2 separate regions of the Homo sapiens genome follow, and region 2 is linked to region 1. The links come from fine-mapping of genetic effects on gene expression. Tissue or cell type: whole blood. Region 1 holds a variant in brackets; the other region holds the start of a gene. All regions are shown on one strand. Distances are from middle to middle.

What was found. PIP is the estimated chance that this variant, and not a neighbour inherited with it, causes the effect.
Region 2: it holds the start of PDCD2, and the variant in region 1 is fine-mapped to the expression of PDCD2 in whole blood (TOPMed, PIP above 0.99). The same link has a PIP of 0.9 or more in blood mononuclear cells.

What each region holds. Positions count from the first base shown.
Region 1 is chr6:170,514,243-170,517,002 of GRCh38, reverse strand. No RefSeq gene overlaps it. Among named protein-coding and RNA genes, the nearest start is that of PSMB1, 38 kb to the left of the region's middle. The variant C/T (reference allele first, on the strand shown) is at 1,046.
Region 2 is chr6:170,583,453-170,585,952 of GRCh38, reverse strand. PDCD2 (programmed cell death 2) reads left to right here and starts at 1,316. Exons shown (of 6, transcript NM_002598.4): 1 at 1,316-1,654; 2 at 2,206-2,448. The coding sequence starts at 1,372. RefSeq lists a silencer at 1,347-1,586.

The sequences.
Region 1 (2,760 bases):
AAGCACAAGCATCCTTTTACTTTCAATCTCCCTGTATCATTGTATTTGAAGTGAGTTTCTTATAAACAGTGTATATTTGGGTCATGCTTTAATTCACTCTGCCAATCTCTTCCTTTTAACTGGTTTATTTAGAGCACTTACATTTAATGAAATTGTTGATACATTAGGTCTGAAGTTGCCATCTTTTTTTAAATTTTCTGCTATTTCCCTCTGTTTTGTTTTTCTGTTATCCCTACCTTCCTATATATTTCTTGAATATTTTTGTTTTACAATTCCACTTTGATTTATGTATTGCACTGTTTAGTTTATCTCTTGGTATCGCTTTTCTACTTATTACACAAAACACGGTCTATCTGTGTTAGCATTTTACCAGCTCCCGTGAAAAGTAGGAAAAAAGGTGACCTCCTTTATGTCACCTCACCCTCCTCATTTATAATTTAATAATCATAAATATTTGATATTAATAATATGTTTAATGTAATTGTCTGAAATATTTCCTCCATGTGTATTTACAACCACATCAGTTAGGGTTATAATTTTTGCTTCAACTATCAAACATAATTTAGAATATTCAAGAGGAGAAGGAAAATGTATTTTTTAATCTATATTTTTACTATTTTCCTTGTTCTTTCTTTTTTCCTAATGATTGAGAACATGTCTCAGAGCGTCTGAGGAATGTGAGATATGAATTTTTTTTTTGAGAGAGACAGGGCCTTACTCTGTCACCCACACTGTAGTGGAGTACAGTGGCATGATCATAACTTATTACAGCCTTGAACTCATGGGCTCAAGTGGTCCTCCTGCCCCAGCCTCCTGCGTAACCAGGACTACAGACATGCACCGTCATGTCAAGTAATTTTTAAATCAATCTTTCCTTCTTTTCTTTTTTTCTTTCTTTCGTGGAGACAGGATCTTGATCTTACTGTGTTGCCCAGGGCGGTCTTGAACTCCCATTCTCAAGTGACCCTCTCACCTCAGCCTCCGAAAGTGCTAGGATTATAGGCATGAAACACCATGCCTGGCCTGATATGGAAAATGTATCAGA[C/T]GCAGAGAGACATAAACATGAGACTCTAATCATGTCCTCTGCAGCCATACCTGGGGGCAAGTTTTTAAAGGCATTTTGATTTTTTTTCCCTTTCTTCTAGTTTCCAGGCTAGCTGATAAATTACCTAAAATGTTACCACAAGTTGCACAATGTAACTCTCATCCATAATCTTCATGTTCATGGAATTTGTGATACAAAGAAAAATGTATAGCCAACCAATCACTTTTGTTATTTTAATAAAGCAAAGTAAATTATTGGTAAACAACTTAAGGACTGCACTTCTTTTTTGCTTTTACAAACCACTTGTAGTTACTGTTAATTGGAGCATGGATCAAGGCAACTTGCATGAGTCTCCTGGGCTTCAGTCCTCAGCTTCAGCCCAGATAAACTCTCTACTTATATTAATTTTGCCTCAGTTTTTTTCCTTTAGGTTAACATGATCCAAGATTCTTTCTTTTATTAGTTCTTATCTGTTTAGAAAACTTCCCTTAGCCATTATTTTAGAGGAGGTCGGCTGGCAACAAATTCTCTTACACTGTTCTTTCATCTGAAAATATCTTCAAGTCCCCTTCATTCACCTTTATATTTTCTCTGAATAAATAATCCTGGGTTGACAATTCTTTTGTTTGAGCACTTGAAAAATGTTGTTACTTCCTTCTGGCTCCCTGGTTTCTGATGAGAAATTCCGTATCATTCAAATTGTTTTCCCTTATAGGTAGATGTTATTTCTCTCATTGCTTTCAATATTTTTTCTTTGTCTTTAGTTTTCAAAAGTTTAGTTATAGCATGCTTTGGCATGGATTTCTTTGGGTTTATCCTATTTGGAGTTCACTCAACATTTTGAATCTGTAGATTTATGTCTTTTGCCAGATTTAGAAAATATTCATCCACTATTTGTTTGACTACTTTTTAAGTCATGCCCTCTTTCTCCTCTCTCTGGGACTCCAATAACATAAATGTTAGACCTTTGATTGTGATCCTGTAGGTCTCCAAGGCTCTGTTTATTTCTTTCTGCAGTTCAGATTAGGTAATTTCTTTTTTTATTTTATTTTATTTCCCTGTTTTAATTCCCTGTTCACCAATTCTTTCCTCTGTCCCCTCCATTCTGCTGTTGAGTCCATCTACTGAGTTTTAAAAACCTTTGTTGTTATTGCATGTCTCAGTTCTAAAATTTCCATTCAGTTATTCTTAATATCCTCTAATTATTTGCTGGAACTTTCTATTTTTCTAATATATTTCAAGTGTTTTTGTATTGCTTGTTGAAGTTTTTTTATTTATTTTTATTTTATTTTATGTATTTATTTTTTTGAGACAGAGTCTTGCCCAGTCACCCAGGCTGGAGTGCAGTGTCGTGATCTCGGCTCACTGCAATCTCCACCTCCTGGGTTCAAGTGATTCTCGTCTCAGCCTCCTGAGTAGCACGTGCCACTATGCCTGGCTAATTTTTGTATTTTTAGTAGAGATGGGGTTTCACCATGTTGGCCAGGCTGGTCTTGAACTCCTGACCTCAAGTGATCTGCCCGCCTTGGCCTCCCAAAGTACTGGGATTACAGCTGTGAGCCACCATGCCCAGCCTGAAGTGTTTTTATGATGGTTGGTCTAAAATCGTTGTCATATAATAATTAATATATCTGCCAGTGTTAGCAGTCCTTGTTGTTTCACTCTCCCATCAACATGTGACATTGTCAGAGTTTTATTAAAGCCATTTTGCTAGG
Region 2 (2,500 bases), 69 kb before region 1:
AGAAAAAAAAAAATTGATGGAGAGTTAACTTTTGGTTTACAATGTAAATGTTTATTTAAAAACAGACATTATTTTATGTACCATTACAAATATACTGCTACCCAGCTGCTCGGGAGGCTGAGGCAGGAGAATGCTTGAACTCGGGAGGCGGAGGTTGCAGTGAGCCGAGATCGCACCATTGCTCTCCAGCCTGGGCGACAGAGCGAGACTCCATCTCAAATAAAACAAAAACAAACAAATATACTGCCAACTAAACTGTGATTTTGTCAAAAATAAATGTTGTTGATGACTTTACTTCCATTAAAGCCACTGTAGTAGCCAAGGGAAAGCTTCCTTTTTGTCCTCTGAAGGTTCACTGAAAAGTCAACTGACAAAAGGCACATTAATTGGAGAAAGGGCATACAAATTTATTAACATGCACATGGGGGAGAACCAGAGTGATTTTGCTGAAGCCCCAAATGGGGTTCAGAAACTTATATACCATCTTGAGGTTACAGAATGGGGGTTTGGATTGTGGCATAACAGGTTATGCGGGTGGAGACCTGGCTGACAACCACGGTCTTGTTATGTAAATGAAACCTCCTAAGTAGAACTCCTTAAAGAGAACAGGTGGTACATGTTTCTTTCAGACCTTTGCAAACCAACAGTAAAATTCTAAACCCTCCAACCGACTGATGGACCCTCTGCTTGCCCAAGGGCATTCTGAAGTTAACCTGAAAAACTAGTTCAGGCAATGATGGGAAGTGGGGGTTGGCCATGCCTCATTATACACTCCTCCCTTGGAATTCAGGTACAGCAAGCCAGCACTAACATTAAAACAGAGACCTTAAGACTGACAGAAAAGACTCTTCTGCAGAGGCTTCTTCATTACTCTCAGGCACACAGGATTCTTGGTTTCCGCTGTAGGGTCCTCACTTTACCTGTTCAACCTTCATTTGTCTTTCACTGCCTACTCTTGGTTAGCACTCGGCCAGCGCACAGGTTTCCCACACCCTGAGGTGGACACCAGCAGGGAAGGTTTGCGGGAGGGCTCTGCCTCCCTGGCGGCCACCCGCAGGCCCACAGCAAGACATGTGCAGAGGTGAGCGGAGCGCCGTCACCAGCTGCCACTCTCCCAAAGACCAGAACCATCCCAGAGCACCCGGAGGCACCAGGAAAGCGGCTCGGAGGCAGAGGCGCCAGGGGCGGGGCTGATGCCGAGAGGTTTCCTCTGCCCCGTTCCCTCGCATTGGTCCTGCAACCGCTCCCGTCAGACGCGTTTCCGCCTCCTGTCCTCCGGAAAGGTGCCCGCCTCTTGCCTTCCGGCCCGGCGCCCGATTTCCGCCTTCCGACCCAGCTGTGGGCTGCGCCCCACGCCAGCCCGCGCCCCGCATGGCTGCCGCCGGGGCCAGGCCTGTGGAGCTGGGCTTCGCCGAGTCGGCGCCGGCGTGGCGACTGCGCAGCGAGCAGTTCCCCAGCAAGGTGGGCGGGCGGCCGGCATGGCTGGGCGCGGCCGGGCTGCCGGGGCCCCAGGCCCTGGCCTGCGAGCTGTGCGGCCGCCCGCTCTCCTTCCTGCTGCAGGTGTATGCGCCGCTGCCTGGCCGCCCGGACGCCTTCCACCGCTGCATCTTCCTCTTCTGCTGCCGCGAGCAGCCGTGCTGTGCCGGCCTGCGAGGTGAGCCGCCAAACGGGGTCGGGACGGGGCCATGCCTCCGACGCGTGCGCGGCGTTAATTCCGGGAGCGACCAGGGGGACGGCGGCAAGCACCGCTGCCGCCCCAGCCTCAGAGCTCCCTCTCCGCGCTGCCCCAGGAGCACCTTCTCCCGGGCCCTTCCAGGATGTGCTCATTTTTGCTACATAAGCTTCTAACTGTGCCCACGCGCATTGGTAACCCCCAGCTTTTAATCAGTGGGTACCAGGTATGGTGTTAATTCAGATAATAGAAATTGTCTTGGAAAGATGGATCCCAGTAGCTTTTTCGTATTTTTGGCAGTCGTTCTTAACGATCAGTCTTATTAATTTGATTAACTCAAACCACCTCTAGGAGGCAACTCAGTTGCGTGTACCGGACGAAATCTAGTTTCTGGATTTTAAAAGCTTATTCCTGAAAGCAAAAACTTTCATTTCTTTTTTGTTGTTGTTATTTTCAGTTTTACGTGCAGAGGATAAAATATGTGAATTGCTGTTTTGTTTGAAGATAAAACTTTTCTCTGTATTCTTTTTTAGTTTTTAGGAATCAACTACCCAGGAAAAACGATTTTTACTCATATGAGCCACCTTCTGAGAATCCTCCCCCAGAAACAGGAGAATCAGTGTGTCTCCAGCTTAAGTCTGGTGCTCATCTCTGCAGGGTTTGTGGCTGTTTAGGCCCCAAAACGTGCTCCAGATGCCACAAAGCATATTACTGCAGCAAGGAGCATCAGACCCTAGACTGGAGATTGGGACATAAGCAGGCTTGTGCACAACCAGGTGGGTAATCTTTTTTTTAAGTCTCAGTTCAGTTTCATCGCCTTTGTCAACC